Linked DNA regions of Homo sapiens. The protein of the gene in region 5 purifies or fractionates together with the protein of the main gene of each other region. This does not show direct contact. Each region holds a gene or a part of one and is shown on either strand. Other genes may lie near its edges. The genes, in order: SMS, GNS, DYNC1I2, MAP4, GSPT1, SLK and DHX29.

Region 1 (3,500 bases), on a different chromosome or scaffold from region 5:
TCCACAAATGATTGGTAGTTTCTCCCCGCAAGACGCAGCCCTAGTAAGAAAGCAAAAAGCTTAACTGTATACTTTTGGGGAAATAAAGAGCAGTGGTCTTTTAATTGGGTGACATCTCTCTCTCTCTCTCTTTTTTTTTTAATGCCCCGATACAATTCTTAAGCTTAAAATTATATTTTCCTTTGTAGCTTTGCCAATTTGAGAATTTACCCACATGGATTGGTGTTGCTGGACCTTCAGAGTTATGATGGTGATGCGCAAGGCAAAGAAGAGATCGACAGTGTCGGTTTTTCACTTTCATTTACTCAGTGTTTAAGGATCATAGTATCTGCTTAGCTTAGTGTTAAAATAATGTTCTCTTCATTGCTTACTTTCCAGTTAATTTTAAACTTTCCTCCCTCCACATAAGTGATTTTAGAATAGAAGTAGTTGTTTAGTTGTTTTTAGGAACCTGGGTGTCAGCGTTCCCTTTTAACTGCCTTAGTATGAGTAATCTTATTTTCCACTGGAGGGAATAGAAAACCTTTAACCAGGATTTTATAGCTGCAGTACCCTTTAGCCTTCCTCTTCCGTGTTACTTTGTTGCTAACTTACGCTAAGGTTAGGTCAGCAACATGAAGGGATAGTTGGTATGGGAGAGTGGAATTGGGCCAGGCGTCTACAGGCTGCTAGAGGGTAGGAGGAGGGACAGGTCAATCTTGCACAGCTCTGTCAACATGGCCTCAGTCGTTGGGTCTGTAATTTAGTTCTTCCATGCAGCTTATTCTACAAGCCCATTGATTTTTCTTTTAATTGTAGATTTTGAACAAAGTAGAGGAAAGAATGAAAGAATTGAGTCAGGACAGTACTGGGCGGGTGAAACGGTAAGTCCACTCTTGAATGTCCTTTTATATTTAATCGATTGAAACAATCATAGTTGGCTGGGCGCGGTAGCTCACACCTGTAATCCCAGCAATTTAGGAGGCCGAGGCAGGCGGATCACTTGAAGTCAGGAGTTTGAGACCAGCCTGGCCAATGTGGCAAAACACCGTCTCTACTAAAAATACAAAAATTAGCTGGACGTGGTAGTGCATGCCTGTAATTCCAGCTACTTGAAAGGCTGACGCATGCGAATGGCCTGAACCGAGGAGGCAGGAAGCAGAGGTTGCAGTGAGCTGAGATCATCGCACCGCTGCACTCCTGCCTGGGTGACACAATGAGACTGTCTCAAAAAAAAAAAAAAAAAAAAAAAATTCAGAATGGCAGTGTGGTCCCCAGTAGTGTCTGCTTAAGATGTGGAAAAGATCAAACTCAGCACCTCCTTCTGGCAACATGGTGAACTGAACTACTGGGCCCCTCACACCAAAACAAGACAGTGTATGAACATTCATGTGCATGGATGCACACACACAAATGCTAGGTAAAATGAAACTAAGGCAGAAAGGGGATATGGACCAACTCCAAGGAGTTGGAACTGCCTAAAGTGGAGACCCAGGTAGAGCTGCCACCTCATCAAAGGGAGCTAGAAAACTCCTGACTTCAGTTCGAGACCAGCCTGACCAACATGGGTGAAACCCCGTCTCTACTAAAAATAGAAAAAGTAGCCAGGCGTGGTGGTACGTGCTTGTAATCCCAGCTTCTCAGGAGGCTGAGGCAGGAGAATAGCTTGAACCCGGGAAGCGGAGGTTGCAGTGAGCTGAGATCGCACCACTGCGCTCCATCCTGGGCAACAGAGTGAAACTCGCCTCAAAACAAAACAAAACAAATACCTGACTTCAACCTTTCCAGGAAAGAGAAAAGGTCACTTTTTCTCCTTCAGGCTCTAGGCCCCAGAGTGAAGTTAAGCAATTTTAAGAGACTTCCGACAGGGTGGGGTGATAAGAAAATTTGCCTCAAGGCGTTCAAAGAAGAAAACTTTCCAAGATACTAAGAATTGATAGGCCACCAACTTTAAGCTGCCATAGGCAGGTTATTTTCAAGTGATCATGAGGAAAATGAAGCTCTCCCTATCCAGTGGGATGGGCACTAGCCCCACATGGCTATTTAAAGTTAATTAAAATACACAATTCAGTTCCTTAGTCACAATAGCTAGTGGTTAGTGTCTGCCATGTGGGACAGTACAACTACGGAACATTTTCATCATCCAAATTTCTATCGGACACTGCCGAAGTGTTTGCCAGTGGTGTCAGATTTTAAAAGAATGCAATTCGGACATCGTGGGAAGGAACTAGTGTCTGGTACATCATGGGAATTAAGAAGTGCTTTGGATACACAGCATGCAAATGCAGGACAATTTACTCTTGCCCTGCCTTGGTGGATCCTCATCAGGCCTTAAGGCATAGAAGGCCTGTCCCTTGCTCATAAAATTAACCTCAGTTGCAGAGACCAACACAGAGGGACTTCCTCATTGCTGAGCAACGGAAATACAGGTTTCTCCAGTTCATGGCACTTTCCAGAAGAAGGAATCCTTATTGGCAAGTGTTAGGATGTTTAAGTACTTAATTACTCAGCATGCTAAGTTTGATCAGCCCACAAGAAAGCTCCAGAGCAGATGTAAGATAACTAGGTAATTGTTTAACCTTCTGTAGTTAAAGAGGAAAGCAGGAAACTGAAAGTGAAAAGAAGACGCCACAGTATAGAACTATTTTTTTGAGATCTGTTAGAGCACTCAGGCTCTTTTGGAGCACCCAAGCTCAGTTTAGGGTCCCCAGCCATGTCTCTTACCCTTCACCTTCCTTTAAAAACACATCCACACCCATATACCCATACCACTTTTTGGACATTTCATCTTTTCCTGTTGGCAGGGTTTTCCTTATCTGCACCCATTTGGAATGAACAGGTTCCCCACTGTCAGAAAGGGTCTTAACTTTATGATAATGAATTGGTCCACATCAAAATGTGGTCTGATTTTTATCAGTTGCCTCTAGGAGTGAGTAAACAGCATACATTTATGGGCTTCAGCATTCATGAGAAGTCTGGTTCTTTTCCTTTTTTGGTATAGGAGTTTTCTAAGAGTGGAGTTAAGCTTTAGATCTTCAAAATACCTTGCTTATGCTTGTCACAGTTTTTATTATCTTTTCATGAAATAAGGTTGACGACAGCTAGAAATTGGGTATACCTTGTTGTAAACCCTTTGTTACTGGCCTCAAAAGGACAAGGATTGCTATCCTTTTTTTTTTTTTTTTTTTTAAATCTGGAGAATAAAGATCAGAGGTTAAATGTTAGAGATTAAATCATTAACAAATAACCCAGTAACATTATCTGAAATTATTCCCCTTTGATAAGTTAAGTCTGAATTTTCGACTAAGAAGCTATGGGATGTACTTGAATTTATTTTTGTTTTCTACTTTCAAGTGAAAAAACAAGAAAACAAGGTCACATAAATTAACTTTGATTTTAAAAGGTTCTTGCAATTTACACAGTATACCTAAGGCCTGGGCTATAATCTACCTGAATTGGTGTAGTCCAGTTTCATTTTTCAGCAGTGAAGGTTGAAACGAGTTTGGTAGGGTGCTCTACAG
Region 2 (3,500 bases), on a different chromosome or scaffold from region 5:
TATGAAAACATCAGTGCATTGTGTAGTCTGTTACGCTATAAACTGAGGTCTCTTTATGAAAGATTATTTTAGCACAAATTCAGAATGAAGCCAGTCCAAGAAAAAAAGAATTGGAAGCTATTTGAAGGTTAGATAGGAAATATACCAAAAATAGAAGAGCGTAGAGAGGGCTGCACCACATCCTACCACGCAAGCACACCCACTGAACTGAGTAAGAGTGGCGTGGCTGAGGTGCCGTCAGCAGCTGACTATGTCACTCTTATGAGTTCTGCTCAGGAACAAGCATAAAACTGAATAATATGACATCACAGTCCAAGACCTGGTAAGAGTTGGTTTCTTTTTATTTGGAAATAACTATGGTCAACTTTCATTAATGTGGAAGTTGACTGATAATGTTAAGAGTCAAAGTGAAAAAGAAAGCCGATACCCATATTCAACAGTGCTTTCAGTTACAACATTTTTTGAATTTCCTTCTCTAAAACATTCACAGCAGAGGTGTCCATTTCACTTGCCTGTTTCACCTCTAGATACCACCACAGTTGCTGGGGTCATGTGAGGTAAAGGAATATATCCAATTGACTGTTAGCCCAACATGACTATCTGCAATTCTGATAGAAAAGCTACTTTCAGCCATGTCTTACAAAGTGCTTAAAGCTGGACAGAAGACTTTAAATAAAGCTAAAATCGCTTATTGCCTGAGTTGAACAAGTTACAAACCACAGCTCTTCCTCCTCCCCTGCTGTCTCACCACCAATTAGCCTTCTTGTGAGGACAACATTAGAAATGGAACTGGTTTTTGAGCCAAGAAACATAAAAATTTAGGTGTTCTTAGCCAAGCGTGGTGGCTCATGCCTGTAATCCCAGCACTCTGGGAGGCCGAGGTGGGTGGATCACAAGGTCAGGAGTTCAAGACCAGCCTGGCCAACATGGTGAAACTCTGTCTCTACTAAAAATACAAAAAATTAGCTGGGCGTGGTGGTGCGTGCCTATAATCCCAGCTACTCAGGAGGCGGAGGCAGGAGAATCGCTTGAACCCAGGAGGCGAAGGTTGCAGTGAGCTGAGATCATGCCATTGCACTCCAGCCTGGGTGACATAGTGAGACTCTGTCCCCACTTCTCAAAAATAAAAACATTTAGGTGTTCTCAACAGTGAAGAAACCTGAATAGATTTGATTTTGACAGGGGAATACTGATAATCATACAAGACTCCAAAACTCAGGAAGAACCCATCTAAAAGGGGAGAAGGTAGGGTAAAGTAGTTGATACTTTGCATCAACTGTAAGAAAATTTTCCACCTTAAAACAAATGAAGAGAATGACAGAAAAATGCAGATAGAGCCAATGACTTCATACATGGAACTTAAATTCAAGCTCCCTGCTGGACAGGCACTTCTTTCCTTTATCCCTGGTACAGCCCTTCCACTTGTCTGTTCAAGAGCCCTGTCTTCAGAAGGCCCTCGGAAGAGACAACCTTCACCAACTCTTGGCAGTTCTTCACTGCTGATGTTCCTAAGCCACTTCATTTTTCAGATCTCAGAGGGGAGTCTCAAGAGAAGGGACCTTGCCTTAATCCTTCCAGTGTTAACTGGCACTCCCTGTGGTTGGCAGCCACTGGAAAGTAGATGGCTATCACCTTCAAGAGCTACCTGGAATTGGCCTTTATCACAAGCTTACTGCTCTATTTCAGTGCAGCACCAGCCTAGAATTCACAAAAACATGAACAGAGCTTGGGTGACATGTTTTGAATTTGCAACCTTACCACACTGTGATGAACATCATAAAAAATGTATCTCTACTTATCAATCAACAATGGTACTTGTTCTTACTTGGATGATTCAGCTCTGATGGTTACTCTTCAAGCCATGTGATGTTAGTATTTTTGATAGTGAAGTGCTCAATCTGAAATGCTACACAGGTCCTTTGACTTTAGGTCAAGCTTACATATCAAAAGGTGTGTCTGTGTGTTTGTGTGTGTCCTAAAGTACTGCCATTTATCTGAATGGGTTTACAAATTCAGTCTTTAACCACAAGAGGAATAATCAAGAACTGTGGCCCCAGGATAAAAAGAATACAGTGAGAACAAAGACCTCAGGAGTGTCCTTGTCAGCTAAAGGAAGAGACCAGAGACAGCCACTCCTGACACATGGGCAGAGTTCACAGTTTAACACATTGCACGAGGAAGTCAGCTGACTGGGTTGCTTTTTCAAACAGGACTTAAAGCCAGCCCAGAAACTCTTCCAGGTGTGGTCTTGAAGACTAGCTACAGACACCTACTACAATCACTTCATCAGAAAGAGGCGTGCAGGGATCCATCTGCAGAGGCTGTGTGAGGTCGCTACAGAAGATGTTTGGAAAATCTTCGAGTCCTGACACTGCCGCGATTGCTGAACATGAGACGGGGGTCAAACCTGTATCTGGGGAGGAAAAACCAAATGTAACATTAGCTCTCACTAGCTTCTCACTCAGAATATTATTCAGTGGAAAGGATAGCAGGAAGGGGTGTAAAAGAAACAAATCACCAGAAGGGACTCTAGTGAGAAAGTCTATGGTACAAAACATGAGCCCTCGACAGTTCCGAACATTTCTATCACCAGTCAGCACACACAAAGTCACACAGTGCAAGTCAAGAGGAGAAAAACAAGTAGGTTAGTCTTGAAAGGTGTCAGAAGGCAGCAAGATTTGAGATTTTTTTCTTTTGAGGGAGTAGGGGTGGATCAACTGTTACATTATTACAGTGCTTGTGTTCAAGTCACCCTGATTTTATTTAACAATGGCTCCAAACCACAAGAGTAGTGGTGCTGCCAATTCAGAAATGCCAAAGAGAAGCCATAAAGTGCTTCCTTTAAGTGAAAAAGTGAACGCTCTTGACTTAATAAGGAAAGAAAAAAATCATACAGCAAGACTGCTAAGACCTACAAGAGCCTCACCATAAACATGAGTCATTTTTGGTGGGGGCGCTGGCAGGGGGACAGAGTCAGTCTGTCGCCCAGGCTGGAGTGCAGTGGCACAATTTCAGCTCACTGCAACCTCCACCTCTCCGGCTCAAGTGATTCTCCTGTCTTAAGCCTCCAGAGTAGCTGGGAACACTGGCGTGCGCCACCACACCTGGCTAATTTTTTTTTTTTTTTTTTTTTTTTGTAGAGACAAGAGTTTCACCATGTTGCCCAGGCTGGTCTAGAACTCCTGGGCTCATGTGATCTGCCCGCCTTGGTCTCCCGAAGTGCTGGGATTACAAATGTGAGCCACCGCGCCCAGCCAGGAATGAATCTTCTATCTGTGAAATCATGAAGAAGGAAAAACGAATTCTAGTTTTGCTGCCACACCTTAAACTGCAAAAGTTAGGGCCACAGTGCATGACAAAAGCTTAGTTAAGATGGAAAAGGCATAAAATTTGTGGGTAGAAGACATGAACAGAAACATCTTCCAACTGATGGCAACTGGGCCTGGCACTATCCTTGGGGCTTCACGCATCCACTGTGGGTTCTGGAATAGATCCTCTGT
Region 3 (4,117 bases), on a different chromosome or scaffold from region 5:
CAGGCTGGAATGCAATTGTGTAATCTCAGCTCACTATAACCTCCGCCTCCTGGGCGCAAGCCATCCTCCTGCCTCAGCCTCGTGACTAGCTAGGACTACAGGCGCATGCCACACACCCTGCTAATTTTTCTATTTTTTGTAGAGACGGGGTTTCACCATGTTGCCCAGGCTGGTCTCTAAGTCCTGAGCTCAGGTGATCTGCCTGCCTCGGCCTCCCAAAGTGCTGGGATTACAGGTGTGAGCCACTGCGCCTGGTCCATTTTAGCTGTTACCACAACACCCATCACCATTGCTGGCACATGGTAGGCAATCAATAATAATTTTTTTTCAAATTAATACATGAAAACTATTAGGAAAGAAGTAAAAAAATAACATAGCTATAAAGCTCTTTGAATGTTAGGTTATTGGGAAAAGCTGTGGAAAGCCAAGGATTTTCTTTCTCAAATTTATTTTTAGAATATTTTTTTCTACACAAAAGACCACAGATAAGGCAGAGAAAGATAAGAAAAAGACCACAAGCCCAAGGACTTGGAATTTGAATCATAAAGGTTCATTCTAGACTTGGGCAATATCTAGAACTTCTAGAACAATCAGTTTTCTAGAACATAGAAAAGATATTACCTTGGTGTTAGCTTTAACTCCTGCCAAATAATGCTTTAAATTATTTAAACTTTAAAAAGGTGTGTCAATGTATACATTGCAGGTAAATTCATGTTCCAGTAACTTTTGTTTTCTTTGTATGTTAAAAATCTAACTGTGGAAAACATTCTAGCTTGGTTTGAGAGTCCAATAATACAAAATGCTTTATTTCCTAAAATTGTTTGAGAGAAAACCAAAATGCTACCACACTGCAACAAAATACTAAAGAATTATTTGCTATGTCAGTTGACATATTTTTATTTAGATTTTGCCTAAGATGCCACATGAAGCCTATATAAGACATTCTTTCCCTAAAACTTACATATGTATGTACATATATATATATAATGTTTTACATCCTAAACAGTCTACTTCACGTCTTCACCAAATGTGCAGCAGCGTGATTCACAGGTTCACCACTGGAAAATAGACCTTAAAATTCCGCCAATATTGGGTCAAAGATCTTACACTATAACACATACTACACTGTGGGCACGGATCAACAGACGAGAATACTTTATACAGAAGCTTCTCGACGGAAGAAGGCCTTGGAGTGGGAAATCTAAAGGAGGGGACACACTACATGTCCCAGCACACCTTGCGACGCCCAGCGACCACAATTCCCAGAACGCACTGCTCGTCGCACGCAGGTTTTCCTTGTTGCCGGGGTTTGTAGTTCTTCTCGATCGTGTCAGTTTGTAAGGCGAGGGCGGAAGTTGGATTCCTGGCCTGAGAATATTAGGCGTAGTTTTCCAGTTTTTGGCAAAGCGGAAATACTTAAGGCCCCTGGGTTGACTGGGTTCTTTGTTTTATCTACCGGCTTCTGCTTTACGACAGGTAAGTCACGGAGGGGCTACAATTCCTCGCAGCAGGGCCCCACCTTTTATTTCTGGGAGCGACCTCGTTCTGGTGAGGCTATTTGTCCCTAAGCTCTCGCCGTAGCAGCCGCCGCCCATCCCTCTTTGTGTGCTTTGGAAAGCCGCGGAGCTGGTGGTGGCTACAGTTGGTGTTGGGGGCTTAGGCGAGGGACGTTACCGGGAAGTTGCAGGCGGGAGGACTCTTCCCCATCCAGTCACCTGACAGGTGGGTTGACTGTTCTTCCCTCAAGGCCTCCCTGCCTGTGTTCCACGTCGCAACTCGAAGGGCGGCTTGGCAGTTCCTGCTGACATCCCCGCCCGGCCCAGCTTTGGGGAGGAAAGGCGGGGAGACCTGGGTGCGGTGACTCATTGCGGCCCGGCGAGAGGAGTCCACTCCTTTCCCTTCTCGACCCTCCAGAGGCGGCCTGGGGAGCCTTGAGGCTTGTCCGGCGCCCACTGGCTTCTTCCGGACGCCCTGCCGTGGACCGCGCCCTCTTGGCCGTGACCCCAGGGGAGAAAGTGATTCGTTTTCGCCTTGCCCCATTTTACAAATTAAGGCCATCTCTACTTGCCTTGATAGTGTCTCCCCTCACCTTATGTGTGATGGAAAGCCCCCGAACACGGAGGTTCTAGCACAAAACTCTAGAGACTCTCTTCTCTTGAGTTTTAAGAACGTGAACATGTCGGTCATGGAGGAAGGCTCTGGCTTCTGTGAGGATGAGAGGATTGGTCAGCTGTAGTTCAGCTGGTCAAGACTTTGTTGTTGGGCTTTAAAAATGCGCTTATTTTAATATCAATTAGTGTTGGTATATCTGTTTTACAGTTGACGTTGAACAAAATATAATGTGCCTAGCGTAGCATACAGTTACGTATGGAAGTTCTCTTCACCAGCCGTTTGTATGGAGCTGTTTAGAGGTGTAGAAAGAGTGGAATAAGAAACACGGTCTCTTGCTTTTAGTTTGTTCAAACAAATCTTGGAAGATATTGTGTATATATTTCAGGTCTGCTATGTCAACTTTTCATCCTTTTCGTATGCTTGAAAATTATCAATTCGCTTGCCAGTCTTAATGGAGTTTAGTAGCTGAAATTTCCTTTATCCACTTCTTAGTAGGTGAATTTCTCCTCTTGACTGACTTACCTTTGTTCAGATTTAACAATTGTGCTTTTTAAGAGATTTCCCCTAACCTCTGGAAATACAGTTTTCCAGAGGTTATTCTCCTAGTTTTCTTGATCTAAAGCATTTAATACTTCACTTGTACAGAGACATTGAAAGAGATTGATCATTAGGCAATAAGTCAATCATGTGGAGAAGGTAAGGAGTTCCTGGCTCCTGCCTTATGCTCAGCTGCTAGGCTACTTAAAAAAAAAAAATCCTAATTCATTATTTCTTCCTAAAACTCAAGCTGAAGTAGTGTTTATGCAATTGGTTTTTGAAGCTCAGATTGTAATTGTGTCTACCGTATCCATTATTCATTAGCCAGTGTCAATTGTAATGTTAAGGTCATTCTGCTGGATGTTGTGAAGGCAACAAAAATAACTAAAAAACAGTCCCTGATTTCAAGTACATTACAATCTAATAGGGAACATTTCAGGTATGTCCACAAATAATTGTACTAAAAGTGCCATCAGAGGTATACGTAAGGTGTTATTGTGGAGAAATACAGTCATATGATTTGATAGCTAATGATGGTAACTCCTGCGTTTTGCTTTAGTATTACTACAGCACTTTTAGAACTTACAGGAAAGTTCAGTTTGACCTATTGTTTTTTATCAAGTTTCTATGAATGCAATAGAATTGGTAATAGTTTTGATCTGTGTCATATAGCTTAAGAGCTTCTAAATGCCAAACCATGTCCTCTGTTTTAAGAGCCAGTTTTGACCTTTATCTTGGGTACCTAATATATTGTCATCAAAAACTTTGAGACATTGTGTTCAGTTTGTGTATGCGAACATTAAAGTGCTTACTATGGGCTAGCTACTATGCTCAGCTCTAGGTAATATTTATTATATATATTTGTTTATACATTTTTTAAGTCTTAGTAATAATATATATGCTTCCTTTATTTTATCTTTTAAAAGTTTATTTTTTAGAGACGCTCTGTTGCCCAAGCTGGAGTGCAGTGGCATGATCACGGCTCACTGCAGCCTTGACTTCCTGGGCTCCAGCAATCCTTCCAAGTAGTTGGGACTACAGGCACATGCCACCATGCCGCCTAATTTTTTATTTTTCTTGCCTTTTTTTTTTTTTTTTTTTTTTTTGTAGAGATGGGGTCTTGCTTTGTTGCCCAGGCTGGTCTCAAACTCATGGCCTGAAGCAGTTCTCCCACTTTAGCCTCCCAAAGTAAGCTACTGCCCAGCCCCATTATTTTAAAAGTAAGGTTTTTGTGCTTTTTTGAGATAGCATTGAACTATATGGCCTTTCGGGACAGTTCTCTTCTTGGAACACTAGTTTTTTCAACTGTGCTGCTTTTACTAACATAATGATTATATGTTTCTAAGGTCACAAACATGTCAGACAAAAGTGAATTAAAGGCTGAGTTGGAACGTAAGAAGCAGCGACTGGCCCAAATCAGAGAGGAAAAGAAGAGAAAAGAAGAAGAAAGGAAAAAAAAAGAAGTATG
Region 4 (3,500 bases), on a different chromosome or scaffold from region 5:
AAGTCAGGTAATTAATGAAGTTTTAGCTTAGGTCTGACTTACAGTGGGCCCAGTGGGTCCCTGGACTCATCCTGTGGTCATTACCCCAGTGCCAGAATGCATAATTGGCATAGACATACTTAGCAGCTGGCAAAACCCCCACACTGGCTCCCTGACTGCTAGGTTGAGGGCTATCATGGTGGGAAAGGCCAAATAGAAGCCCTTAGAGTTGCCTCTACCTAAAAAAATAGTAAATCAAAAACAATATCACATCCCTGGAAGGTATGCAGAGATCAGTGCCACCATCAAGGACTTGAAAGATGCAGAAGTGGTGATTCCCACCACATCCCCATTAACTCTCTCATTTGGCCTGTGCAGAAGACAGATGGATCCTGGAGAATGATAGTGGATTATCATAAGCTTAACCAAGTGGTGACTCCAATTGCTGCTGCTGTTACCAGATGTGGTTTCATTGCTTGAGCAAATTAACACATCTCCTGGTACCTGCTATGCAGCCACTGACTCTGCAAATGCCTTTTTCTCTATTCCTGTCCATAAGGCCCATCAGAAGCAATCTGCCTTCAGCTGGCAAGGCCAGCAATATACCTTTACTGTCCTACCTCAGGGGTATATCAACTCTCCGGCTTTGTGTCATAATCTTATTTGGAGAGATCTTGATCGCTTTTCGCTTCCGCAAGATATCACACTGGTCCATTACATTGATGACATTATGCTGACTGGATCCAGTGATCAAGAAATAGCAAACACACTGGACTTATTGGTGTGACATTTGCATGCCAGAGGATGAGAAATAAATCCGACTAAAATTCAGGGACCTTCTGTCTCAGTAAAATTTCTAGGGATCTAGTGTTGTGGGACCTGTTGAGATATTCCCTTTAAGTTAAAGGATAAGTTGTTGTGTTTGGTCTCTCCCACAACCAAGAAAGAGGCACAATGCCTAGTGGGCATATTTGGATTTTGGAAGCAACACGTTCCTCATTTGGGTGTATTACTCCGGCCCATTTACTGAGTGACCTGAAAGGCTGCCAGTTTTGAGTGGGGTCCAGAACAGGAGAAGGCTCTGCAACAGGTCCAGGCTGCTGTGCAAGCTGCTCTGCCACCTGGGCCATATGACCCAGCAGATCCAATGGTGCTTAATGTGTCAGTGGCAGATGGGGATGTTGTTTGGAGTCTTTGGCAGGCTCCCATAGGTGAATCGCAATGGAGACTTCTAGGATTTTGGAGCAAGGCCCTGCCATCTTCTACAGATAACTACTCTCCTTTTTTTTTTTTTTTGAGACGCAGTGTCACTCTGTTGCCAAACTGGAGTGCAGTGGTGCGATCTCGGCTCAATGCAACCTCCACCTCCCAGGTTCAAGCGATTCTCCTGCCTCAGCCTCCCAAGTAGCTGGGAATACAGGTGCGTGCCACCACATCCAGCTAATTTTTGTATTTTTAGTAAAGATGGGGTTTCACCATGTTGGCCAGGATGGTCTCGATCTCTTGACCTTGTGATCCGCCCACCTCAGCCTCCCAAAGTGCTGATTACAGCTAACTACTCTCCTTTTGAGAGTCAGCTCTTGGCCTGTTACTGGGCTTTAGTGGAAATTGAATGTTTGACTATGGGTCATCAAGTCACCATGCGACCTGAACTGCCCTGCCTATCATGAGCTGGGTGCTTTCAGACCCATCTAGCCATACAGTGGATTGTGCACAGCAGCATTCCATCATCAAATGGAAGTGGTATATACGTGATCGGGCTCAAGCACGTCCTGAAGGCACAAGTAAATTACATGAGGAAGTGGCTCAAATGCCCATGGCCTCCACTCCTGCCACCCTGCCTTCTCTCTCCCAGCCTGCACTGATGGCCTCATGGGGAGTTCCCTATGATCAGCTGACAGAGGAAAAGAAGATTAGGGCCTGCTTCACAGACGGTTCTGCATCATATGCAGACAACACCCGAAAGTGGAGAGCTGCAGCACTACAACCCCTTTCTAGGACATCCCTGAAGGACAACAATGAAGGGAAATCTTCCCAGTGGGCAGAACTTCGAGCAGTGCACCTGGTTGTGCACTTTGAATGGAAGGAGAAATGGCCAGATGTGTGATTATATACTCATTCATGGGCTGTAGCCAATGGTTTGGCTGGTCAGGGACTTGGAAGGAGCATGATTGGAAACTTGGTGACAAATTTGGGGAAGAGGTATGTGGATGGACCTCTCTGAGTGGTCAAAGACAAGATATTTGTATCCCATGTGAGTGCTCACCAACAAGTGACCTCAGCGGAGGAGGGGTTTAATAATCTAGTGGATAGGATGACCCATTTTGTGGACACCACTCAGCCTCTTTCCCCTGCCATCGCCCATGGCCAACAAAGTGGCCATGGTGGCAGGGATGGAAGTAATGCTTGGGCTCAGCAACATGGACTTCCACTCACCAAGGCTGACCTGGCTACGGCCACTGCTGAGTGCCTAATTTGCCAGCAGCAGAGACCGACACCAAGCCCTCAGTATGTCACCATTCCTTGGGTGATCAGCCAGCTACCTGGTGGCGGATTGATTATATTGGACCTCTTCCATCATGGAAAGGGCAGAGGATTGTCCTCACTCAAATAGACACTTACTCTGGATATGGGTTCGCCTATCCTGTATGCAATGCTTCTACCAAGACTACCATTTGTGGAATGTTTTTTTGGTTTGTTGTTGTTGTTGTTGTTGTTGTTTTGAGAAGGGGTCTCACTCTGTTGCCCAGGCTGGAGTGCAGTGGCACAATCTTGGCTCATTGCAACATCCGCCTCCCGGGTTCAAGTGATTCTCCTGCCTCCGCCTCCCAAGTAGCTAGGATTACAGGCACCCGCCACCACACCCAGCTAATTTTTGTATTTTCAGTAGAGACAGGGTTTCACCATGTTGGCCAGGCTGGTCTTGAACTCCTGACTTCAAGTGATCTGCCTGCCTCGGCCTCCCAAAGTGCTGGGATTACAGGCGTGAGCCACCGCACCCAGCTGACTCATGGAATGCCTTATCCACCATCATGGTATGCCACGCAGCATTGCCTCTGACCAAGGCACTCACTTTACAGCTAAAGAAGTGCGGCAGTAGGCTCATGCTCATGGAATTCACTGGTCTTACCATGCTCTCCATCATCCTAAAGCAGCTGGATTGACAGAACAGTGGAATGGCCTATTGAAGTCACAATTACAACGCCAACTAGGTGACAATACTTTGCAGAACTGTGGGAAAGTCCTCCAGAAGGCCGTGTATCCTCTGAATCAGCGTCCAATATAAGGTACTGTTTCTCCCATAGCCAGGATTCACAGGTCCAGGAATCGAGGGGTGGAACTGGAAGTGGCACCACTCACCATCACCCCTAGTGATCCACTAGCAAAATTTTTGCTTCCTCTCCTGCAACATTATGTTCTGCTGGCCTAGAGGTCTTAATTCCAGAGGGAAGAATGCTGCCACCAGGAGACACAACAATGATTCCATTAAACTGGAAGTTAAGATTGTCACCTGGACACTT
Region 5 (3,329 bases):
ACATTTTTAAAAAATAAGTTATGTTTGCTACTAAAACATTTACACTGTTAGACTATTATGTGCATGTTGCCAAGACTCTTAAGTAACTTGGATATCAACTGTGAAGGGCCTACCTCTAAAAAGTAACAGGTCATACAAATACAAATGTAACTGTAAAAATTCCACTGGATTCTTGCATATTTGCAAGATTAGATTATTCAAAAGAAATTTCAGTGCTAAAATTAACCAGCAACATAAGTTCTATGGGCTTTGAAAATTGTTCTCATCTTTTTAAAGTTGATGCATTTTCAATCCTGCTTACACAGGCTGTTCATTTGGATAAGTAAATAAAATGTCTAAGGTGAACTTGGCATTATGTGGAGATGTTGGACCGTTATAGAGCAATACAAATTCCTATGCTGTCATTCTGTTTTCTGCAAATGCAAACGTGCTTATATGGTCAACAGTGCAAAAATAGGGTAGTTGGCTGCATATTTAGGGTATTACCTAAGCATTTGTTCTCTAACGTTGCTCTACTAGAATGATTTTTTTCTTGCATCTTTTCACATTAATGATGTTCTTTATATAACTTTCATGCGATTATTTAGTTTTTTAAATTAATAAAGTGAATTTAAGAAATATTGAAATAAACATCTAAGTAATTGCCATTTTAAACCCTTGTTTCTTACTGTGGGAGAGGGGGAAATACAGCACTCATTTCTTGTTTTTAATTTGCAGAAGTAAGTGAAAATCTATGTAAAATCAAACCAAAAGAGTTGGACTGAGTGTGTATTGTCTTGAGATTAAGTGACAAATAGTAAAGTGTTACTGAGTAATTAAGCCCATGTATTTTTTTTTTGTGAGTTGAAAATCTTTGAAATATGTGATAACCGAATGTCAAAAGTTCCTAAACTCTAACAGTGCAGGTTGTTCACTGTAACGAGGTAACTCATATTTGCTGGTTACATAAACTACAAGTACTGCTCTCACAATATGGGACTTTGAACTGTGATGTAGTTCAACAGTTGCCGGCATCCTCTCAGCTGATACGCTGCGAATATTTTGGGTTAGACTTGCAGCCAGATGCAGTTTTGCAACCCAAGAAAAAAGTTGAACCTATGATCAAAAACTGCTCCCAAGATGAACCTGGAAAAAAATCAGCTAAGCTCCCTTGGCGATCTGCAGGAACACTAGTAATGACTGGAATTACTCCGTGATCTTTGATGACTATTACACATAACAGCACTCTAGCACCTTTTCTTACTGGCATGGACTTCCTCATGGACTGCTACTTCATGGATGATAGCTTCATTGCTTTGGGTAGGGATTTAAGGTAGTCAAGGGGAAAATACGCAGTTTTATTACAGGTCTTAACATCAGGCAACTTTCAACTTTAAAACCCTTTGTGAAAAATGTGGTTATAGCACTATAGCTCTGATTTTAGGATGGTTAAATGTTATATTCATTGTTGGCTTACCTTATCAAACTGTGCCATTAATCCTTTCACAGACATAGGTAAGGAAGAGAACAACCAGTGGATTCAGGGGACAATTATCTATCTCCAAATAATAGGCTTTTATTTCTTGCAGCTAACTTTTTCAGTGATTCTAGCAGATGCCATCTAGTACATCCTTGATCTTGTTTCTTTCGTGAGAGATCTCGCCATGGCAGCATCTTGTTAAGTAAGTGTAATTGCACATGCACAAAAGACTTAACTAGCTTTACATTTAGCAGTCAGTTGGTTAGATTAGGTTTCATAGTAAATGAATAGGAATAGAAAGAATAGGAAGTGTTTTTATTTTCCAGTAGTAATTCCGTGGATTCCATTTGACCCAGTTTACTATCAGTTCAGTTCAGGTAGATTTGGTTCAACTTTTGGTGGTTTTTGGCTCTAGGATATTCTTGACTTTAATATCCTAGAACTTACTGAGTCTTCCCTTCAATAAATACACTTCTCACATACCTCTAATCCTATGCTTCCTTGAAACAATAATGCTAGCTGAGTTGTTTACTAAGGATTATTATAAGGGCCTGAAGGTGTGGGAGTGGAGATTAATTAAAACCTTTATGTTCTCCAATATAAGGGAAAAGCAGGTTGGTACTACTTCTGATTAGGCAGAAAACACCAGGATTCCTTAAGTGATCCTTGAAATGGTTATTGTTTTCTGCCTTGTCACATTTGCCACTGTGCCCTTTAAAACGATGTGGAAACCTCAGGTTTGTGGACAGCACAGGTGGAATGACATCTTGTGCTTCCTGAGGCTCCCCTCTACCAGGCACATTAGCTTAGTGCTTCAGATGTCAGCCCAAGTCCTTGTTACCTCCTTTTCCTGCTGCCCAGGGAAGAGTGTGTGTGCTGGAGCTGGAGCGCTTGCACTCTTCAGGTGACTATTCTCACCTCCATTTCCTCCACATGCATTAGGTGAAACTGAGGTCTAAGCCTCCTGCAAGGTCTACATTTTAAGGACTCACACATCAGGCTCTCAGAAATGTACACAGGTATTAGTTCTGTTTGTTCTAAAGGAAATGTGGGTATCTCTCAGGCCAGGACTTAGTGACTAGTTTTCGCTAGACAGCAGGTTAATACCTAGATCTCATTTAAAAAAAAAAAAAAAAAACAGGATTAAAGGGAACTGATCAGGTTTGTTGAGTTTTTTAGCCTAATTCCAAAGCATGGAAGAGTGCTCTAGGTAGGAAAGAAAGCTTTTTCTTACGATTTGTAGCTACCTACTGTGCCTGACTTGGTGCCTGTGTGAGGATTAAGCCCTTAGTCTGCTCTTGCAATTATTCAAATGACAAATTAAATTTGCTTTTGTAATAACAATAAAAGTTGTCATCTTCCCTTTTGAAGGATTTGTCGTTTGTAATTACCTGTGTTGTAACAAGCAAAAACCATGCCCTTTTTTGTACAATCCTTTTATTTTTGTATCAGGTACTGGAACCATCTACCAAAAGGTTTGTTGGATGGATCTAATAAGCTCTGTCACATAAGGGATTCACAAACGTCATCTGCTTGCATATGGCATGCAAGTCTTTTGTATAATGTATACGACAACCTTAGGAAACAAAAATAAGAACCCTATAGGAAGTTAGGGATGCTGAATAATAAATAACTAGATCACAGTTATGTGGTTTTATGTGAACAGTAGAGTTGGGGGAAACGTCAATTATTATTAGAACTATGAACCTCTACATTCAGGATTTTTAATAAAGATCAAGAGACCAAATAGTGCTTGCCCTTTTCATTCAATGTGCAAGGGCAAGAAGAAGTTAATGATAAAGGTAACATACACAGTGGCTACTTGAATGACAGCAGTTCATTCCTGTGTACTAAGTTCCTGTTTGAACTG
Region 6 (3,594 bases), on a different chromosome or scaffold from region 5:
TAATTTTCTTTTGGTGGATCAGCTCTCATAAAAAAGCTATGATTTGCTCAAATATGCTGTTGACTCAGTAAATGAATATATTTTTTTCTTTAAATAGGAACAACCTCTTTTAAAAGAGAAAAATTATTTCAGTGATTTGTCAAAACGAATTACCTCTTTTGGCATGAGCTAATAATTGAGGGTGCTAATTTTCTTAAGATAGTGCCTAAAACACTAAATTTCAGTCAAGTCGTAAGTAGGATTTTCTTTTTGATCAACAGGGACAAAAACATCTTTAGAATTAAAAACATGGTTGTTTTGGAATTTTTGCTTCTCTTACCGTTTGATAGAAATTTTCATCCTAAAATACATGTACAAAGTTTGGAAAGATGAAAAAAAGAGGTAGCTTTTAGATTGCAAACTGGAAATGTAAAACTCATGAAATTTAAGCAATATAGGTTTAGCTATCTGTGTTTATTTTCTAAAATAATACCTGAGCTGGTTAAATGATTTCTCTCCATCTTAGCTAATTCTGTTTAAAACTCTGTCAGAGGCCTGCAGGCTGTGAGTTATATTTATAAATATATCTTCAGAAATTAATCTTAAAAGAGGCATTAGTTCAGAATACTTTTTTAAAAGTTTAAATTAAATATTTAGGCACGTCAGGAATTACTTTTCCTTATTTTGAAATGAGGCTACTTATGTCTTGGTTTTATTTTGTTCCATGTTTAAATCATTCACTTTGATTTGAGTGGGAAAAGCCTGAAGCCTTTATCATGTGGTTGCTGGTGTGTGTAATTATTAATGAAATGTTCACTCCTAGTCCCTTATGAGGCTTAGAATTTCAACCACGTGTCAGGTCAGACAGTATTATAAACTGTACTTTGCTGTCTGAGACAGCACATTTGTGAATGATGCTTGCTGCCTGCCATTTTCAACCTATTCTCTCTTAAGAGTGCTAGGTACCAAATTGTGAAAGTTTGTTTTCAGTTATATTACTTTTGAGGCTGGTGAAAAATTTAAATGTAACTTTGTGGGAACACTGATTCATATTTAGAAAATGTAAATGTCTGTAGCACTTTCTTGCAGTTAATTTGAAAACTTTGGATGCTGAACCTTGTTTGTCAGTGATTTAGATGATTTAAAAATGCATGTGTGATTTGAATTTTATAATTGTTTTGACAAGCATAATTTACTTGGACAACTTCGTAGGTAGCCTTAACTTCTGGCCAAGTTTGTTTTTTATATAAATATATATACATATATACATATTATGTATGGTTGTAAATTCATACACTTATCACATGAATGTGTTACTGTATACAAAACTCTTAATGCTTTATTCTCAAATGCTGGGTTGAAAAATGTTTTGAAAGCCTTTTAAAATATATATCTTTATAAAGTAATATTCAGGATGATGATAAAAATTGTTTATATTGTTATGATAAAAATGACAGTATAATGTTGCCCAGTGTATTTAATGATTTATTTGAAGAGGGATTGGGAAGGAACGTCTTCATACCACTTTCTCCTTTGAAATTTTCAGTTTATTGACTTTTAAAAAATGAATACCTCAGGCAGTAGACATTTTTTTTCTAGTATCATTTAATTGATACCCTGTGCGCTAAATAGTGTGTGGTGCCTGATTAATTTGGTCTGAATATTTGATTCTTTCTGTTCCTTTCAACTTGACATTCAGATTATTGACTCAAGGAGAGAGGCTCAGAGTGGAATGGTTGGCGCTGTGGGTAAGGTTGGATCTCCCTTAAAACTGCCTTTTGGATTCAGTGTTTGTGCTTGAGTTCGCTTTCAAATATGACCATAATCGTGTGGGTGCAAGACTGTACAGTGATACATATGTAGAGGTAAAGCATTCATTTTAATACTTAAAGTTATATAAATCTTTTCAAAAAGTGTTTTGTTATAAAATACGCTGTTTGTACCCATACCAGCCCACCTCTTCTGAGGCCCTGTATTCAAATAGATGATAGTGATCTATCTTTCCTGCATGAAGTGTAGGTGGCGAGTGGGCGAGGGGCGCAGACTTCTTTGAAATCGAAGGGTACAGTCAAATCTACTGCTGATTTGGTTGTTTTGTTGCTGTGGCAGAATATGCCATGAAACACATACAGACTTCTCCGAACGTGCACCCTCATCAGCCACCTCCTCCCCTCTTTCCCTGAGTGCTGTGAACACAGCAGACCTGCACACTTCTGCAGATCCAGCTCCTACAGCTTGGGGCACTAGGCTGCCTTTCCTAGTCCTGTCAACAACCATACAGTGCGAATTGCTGAATTAGCTGCTATTCTATGTGGAGTCACATTAAGCTTTTTCTTATCTTTTTCTATGGGGAAGCTATAGGGTGGGTAAGGAAAAAATGTTGAATGCTTTTACTTTGCTGAAAATATTAGAACTCTCTTGTGACAGGATACAGCAAATTATAATTAAATATAAATTACCAGAACCAGAGCTACCTCTAAGTCATACTTCCTCAAGCACAAAGCTCTCAGGCATATGAGACCCACCTTAATGAAGGGTCTCTGATTTCTTGAGCATCAGCGAGTTTCAGAAGTGACTATTTTTTTGTACTCTTCTAGTTTCCTTGTAACTATACACTTTTTCCCATTCCACACTGTGCTTAAATGACAAAGACTCTTCTGAGAAGCCAAATTCTGTCCAAGTATTAACTAGAGATATTGTTGATTAAAGAAAATCTAGAACTGAAGTGAAAGAAGAGAGTTCCAGTTCTAATAGTCTTTTGATTAACAATTCTTTTCTGAGAAATGATTTTTATAAGAAATGGGGTGATTCTTTAAATGCTTTTCTTAAGTTGAAGGCACAACAGTTAATGGCTGTATTGTTGCTATTCCGTTGCTGACATGTTTTTGATAAAGCTTTAACATTCCTGCTACTAATTTTGGCGGAGAGTGTTTGCCAGGTTTCAATGTGGGCTGCAGCTTTTTGTGCTCCTTCTCTGGTTTGCAGTGTAATGAGTTCATAAGCTAAATTTTCAGAAAGAATTTTGTTTAAGATTATGCCTCTTATCTACTTGAGAGCAACATGTCTTTTCAATCATGGGATTGACACATGAAAAATAAAGTTATTTCTTAATCAATTTTGGGAAGCAGTCTTTTATTGAGAATCTTTGAAACTGGAGTGTCCTGCCTGAGAACACTTTGCAGTTGTTGGTCCTAGTTATATTGTAAAACTTGCAGTCCCCGCAGGTCTTCTGACCCTTCCAGAGTTAGTATTCCTAGCTGTGTGTAGTCCACAGCATACACGCAAACACACACACACTCAAATGTAGTTTTTAGTGATAACTTGCTGGGGGTTGTCTTTCAGAATGCAAACCCCTCCTTTGGGAGGTGCTTAAAATATTTCTATCAGCCTATGTATATATGTGTATGTTTTTAATTTCTTTTCCTCTTGGGATGGATGATTTTTCTCACCAAGCATTTCACAAATCATATGACCTCACTTCTGCAAAAATAGTCTCTTCGTCATTGATAACGTTCATGCAAGATTCAGTAGACGCTAGGCAGCATCACTCGGCACGTGTCCAGCTGGAGGGAGGCATGGAGTGTCATTTTCTAATCTGGGAGCGTTGTGCACTAT
Region 7 (3,500 bases), on a different chromosome or scaffold from region 5:
AAGTACACCCATCCTCAGTAAATCGAGATTTGCAAACTCATGGATGGCTCTTATACCAGGAGAAGGTGAAGTACTCATTCCTAAATTCCAGTATTCAGAGCATTATTCTGCAAGTCATTCATAACAAGTTAGGATGCCCTAACAGGTATTTTATTTGGTTCTCAAATTGAGCTATTCATTTTTGTTAATATTTGAAATCAAGATGCACATAGCTTCTCAAACAAAAGAATGCTTATTTTCTCTTCAAAAACAAATAGTAAGGTTTCTACTCTGCCCATCATCTTTTCTACTTGGAATAAAGACAGTAATAGCAAATTGATGTTGGTTAATAATGTATCAATCCCCTTAGTATTTCATTAAAAGGTGCTGCCTCAGAAGGGAATAAAAGACAGGTTGTATGTGCTATTTCCAAATAAGGGGAATATTGGATGGTGTAGTAGAACTGTGGATGATTTGCAACAGTTTCGGTCAAGTATCACCTAAGATAATTTAATAGCAAATATTTATAGATTACAATGAAAACAACCTTTTGAATTGGAGCTGCATGACCACTCCATTTTCTTATTTTTTAACATATGGTAAAGGTTAAGATGGCATTTTCTCTTTATATTTTGGGTTTTTGTTACCTGTCTCATTCACACATTTTTTAAGGCAGTATGAGAAGAAAAGGGAACATAAAGAATTGAAACATATTTCTTCTCCCTTTACAAAAAGTGCCTCCATTTTGTTTCTTGACCTTTAAAATAACAAAGATCCGTAATTTCAAGCACTGGCTTGAATAACTCTCAACATTTATCAAACTTAAATGTAAAACGAGAGATTACTGATTGATGCCCATAGCTGAATGTTGGTTTAGAAACCAGCAACTGAAAATCATAATTTTAACATTAATTATTTAATATCATTAGCATATAAAATTGCTTGTACCTAGTTTCCTTTATGTTCAAAGTATATAACTCAGCCTTAGCAATAATATTTAAAATGCCTTTTCATAGCATTAATGCACAGGTGGTAATAGTAATTATTATAAAATTGATAAATTATGCACATAAGAAAATGAAAATGTAGCTTTACAAATACTCTGAGCTTAAAATGTAGAATAACAAATTGTAGAAAAATGCTTACTTGAAAAAGATAAATGACCTCCTTCTATTTTTATATTTTGAAGTTATTTTCCCCCCTTTTTCCCATGTAGATAAGGTATGCCAGAGTGTATTTGAGAGAAACTACCCTAATAACCCCTTTTCCAGTTTTACTTTTTGGTGGTGATATAGAAGTTCAGCACCGAGAACGTCTTCTTTCTATTGATGGCTGGATCTATTTTCAGGTACATAGTACAACTGATTTTATTGATTATTAAAAATTTTCAACTTCCAGTACCATTGAGGTACATTTTTTAAATTTTATTGGAGTTTGCATAATTTCTTCTTAATATGAGTTAAGTAGAATTCCTTATTTTATCTTGCCTCTGTGGTTTTAAATCTGTTAAATTTGGAAATCAAATTATATTGCTATTACAAATTCTATTTATTATTAATAACAATTCTAGCTTTCTATGTGTTGGGTACTTCAATAGTTAACTTTATGTGGATTTTCCCAAATTAATATCCTAGCAACCTTGTTAGGTAATTTCTATAGTTTCTTTTACATAGAGACACTCAAACACAGTGAGAAATTAAATAATTTTCCCAGGATTTACGTGGATTGTTACTGACAGAGCAAGATTCAAATCTAGGACTATTTGATACCCAAATTTATTCTCATTCCACTACATTGTGGAATAAAAAGGAATAAAAAAGACCAAACAGATTTATAGTTTATAATTCATACTGTTGAATTCTTCTCTGGAAAAATTAGACCAACCTATGCTTATTTCTGGCAATAAGTTTATCTGTTTCTCTGTACTCCCATCAAGATTGACCAGCTTAAACTAAGCAAACCTATTACATTGTTAGGTTATTCTATGATAGCTGTTTGTCTAGGACTGGAGAGGTGAATTTTAAGTGCAGCTTTACAATTATATGCAGTTTGTGCAAAGAAATTGGGGTGGTGGAAATGTTTTATAACTGGATTGTGATGGTTGCACAATTCTATAAATTTACTAAAAGCTATTGAAATTAGTGAAAATGAGTGAATTTTTATGGTAATTTTTATATCTCAATAAAGCCGGGTGCCATGGCTCATGCCTGTAATCCCAGCACTTTGGGAGGCCGAGGCAGGTGGATCATGAGGTCAGGAGTTCGAGACCAGCCTGACCAACATGGTGAAACCCTGTCTCTACTGAAAATACAAAAAATTAGCCAGGCATGGTGGCAGGCACCTGTAATCCCAGCTACTCCGGAGGCTGAGGCAGGAGAATCGCTTGAACCTGGGAGGCGAAGGTTGCAGTGAGGCAAGATTGCGCCACTGCACTCCAGCCTGGGCAACAGAGAGAGACTCCATCTCAAAAAAAAAAAATTTCCCTCCCCAAAACTGTAGTCTTAACTTCCACAGAGTTGATATAAATAGAGAAGAAAACAATTATTGGAGTAATAGTTGCCTTATTTTGGGAAGAGTTACCAGATTTAATAAGGAAATTGACAGGTTTGCATGCCTAGCTAGCAGAAATAATTTGTATTTTTCCCATTGTGTTTTCCATTAAAAGCAAGATGTGCTAAGGCAGATTGTAATATAGGCTTGCCTTGATTTACTTAAACACATTCACACTGCCCTGGATTGACTTTGTCCATTTTTTCAACTCCTCTTAACAGGCCCCTGTAAAGATAGCTGTCATTTTCAAGCAGCTGAGAGTTCTCATTGATTCAGTTTTAAGAAAAAAGCTTGAAAATCCAAAGATGTCCCTTGAAAGTAAGTGTTTGCTTATAAGTGAAAGACCATATACACATATGTGTATGTGTACACATACCTATGTATTAATGTGTGGAAAAACTTTCTAAGAGGCCAGGCACGGTGGCTCACGCCCATAATCCCAGCACTTCTGGGAGGCCAAGGTAGGCAGATCACCTGAGGTCAGGAGTTCGAGACCAGCCTGGCCAACATGGTGAAACCCTGTCTCTACTAAAAATACAAAATTAGCTGGGCATGGTGGCGGGCACCTGTAATCCCAGCTACTCGGGAGTCTGAGGCACAAGAATCACTTGAACCTGAGAGGCGTAGGTTGCAGTGAGCGCCAAGATCACATGATTGCACTCCAGCCTGGGCGACAAGAGCGAAACTCCATCTCAAAAAAGAAAAAAAGAAACTTTGTAAGAGAAAATCTGAAATATTCTAGAAATTTTTTTTTGTAACATTGGAGTATACTAAAGCACACTGAAGTCGTAAAAAATCCCATCTACTTTATGCTGAATTCCATCAAACTCAATTAGTGATTATTCACAGCCTAATTATCCTCTTAAGGTTTAGTTTACTCCTGTCTCTTTTAAACTTCATTTCTAAACTTCTAGCCATTTCATAGAAAAAAAGGTTAATAAAACTGAGCATAGTAAACTTTGTTACTTATT

What was found.
Region 1: the proteins of GSPT1 (region 5) and SMS fractionate together in Homo sapiens (co-fractionation; one large-scale study listed by BioGRID). This does not show direct contact.
Region 2: the proteins of GSPT1 (region 5) and GNS fractionate together in Homo sapiens (co-fractionation; one large-scale study listed by BioGRID). This does not show direct contact.
Region 3: the proteins of GSPT1 (region 5) and DYNC1I2 fractionate together in Homo sapiens (co-fractionation; one large-scale study listed by BioGRID). This does not show direct contact.
Region 4: the proteins of GSPT1 (region 5) and MAP4 fractionate together in Homo sapiens (co-fractionation; one large-scale study listed by BioGRID). This does not show direct contact.
Region 6: the proteins of GSPT1 (region 5) and SLK fractionate together in Homo sapiens (co-fractionation; one large-scale study listed by BioGRID). This does not show direct contact.
Region 7: the proteins of GSPT1 (region 5) and DHX29 purify together in Homo sapiens (affinity purification with mass spectrometry; one large-scale study listed by BioGRID and IntAct). This does not show direct contact.

What each region holds. Positions count from the first base shown.
Region 1 is NC_000023.11:21,971,709-21,975,208, forward strand, and holds part of SMS (spermine synthase), read left to right. Parts: intron 1-188; coding exon 189-282; intron 283-798; coding exon 799-863; intron 864-3,500. UniProt on the Homo sapiens protein: Catalyzes the production of spermine from spermidine and decarboxylated S-adenosylmethionine (dcSAM).
Region 2 is NC_000012.12:64,714,407-64,717,906, forward strand, and holds part of GNS (N-acetylglucosamine-6-sulfatase precursor), read right to left. Parts: intron 2,414-3,500; coding exon 2,335-2,413; 3' UTR 1-2,334. UniProt on the Homo sapiens protein: Hydrolyzes 6-sulfate groups in N-acetyl-d-glucosaminide units of heparin sulfate and keratan sulfate.
Region 3 is NC_000002.12:171,686,152-171,690,268, forward strand, and holds the start of DYNC1I2 (cytoplasmic dynein 1 intermediate chain 2), read left to right. Parts: upstream 1-1,317; 5' UTR 1,318-1,476; intron 1,477-1,603; exon of another isoform or gene 1,604-1,722; intron 1,723-3,995; 5' UTR 3,996-4,004; coding exon 4,005-4,112; intron 4,113-4,117. UniProt on the Homo sapiens protein: Acts as one of several non-catalytic accessory components of the cytoplasmic dynein 1 complex that are thought to be involved in linking dynein to cargos and to adapter proteins that regulate dynein function.
Region 4 is NC_000003.12:48,006,417-48,009,916, forward strand, and holds part of MAP4 (microtubule-associated protein 4), read right to left. Parts: intron 1-3,500. UniProt on the Homo sapiens protein: Non-neuronal microtubule-associated protein. Promotes microtubule assembly.
Region 5 is NC_000016.10:11,867,628-11,870,956, reverse strand, and holds the end of GSPT1 (eukaryotic peptide chain release factor GTP-binding subunit ERF3A), read left to right. Parts: 3' UTR 1-2,829; downstream 2,830-3,329. UniProt on the Homo sapiens protein: GTPase component of the eRF1-eRF3-GTP ternary complex, a ternary complex that mediates translation termination in response to the termination codons UAA, UAG and UGA.
Region 6 is NC_000010.11:104,026,140-104,029,733, forward strand, and holds the end of SLK (STE20-like serine/threonine-protein kinase), read left to right. Parts: 3' UTR 1-3,094; downstream 3,095-3,594. UniProt on the Homo sapiens protein: Mediates apoptosis and actin stress fiber dissolution.
Region 7 is NC_000005.10:55,259,195-55,262,694, reverse strand, and holds part of DHX29 (ATP-dependent RNA helicase DHX29), read left to right. Parts: coding exon 1-65; exon of another isoform or gene 66-145; intron 146-1,195; coding exon 1,196-1,327; intron 1,328-2,750; coding exon 2,751-2,847; intron 2,848-3,500. UniProt on the Homo sapiens protein: ATP-binding RNA helicase involved in translation initiation. Part of the 43S pre-initiation complex that is required for efficient initiation on mRNAs of higher eukaryotes with structured 5'-UTRs by promoting efficient NTPase-dependent 48S complex formation.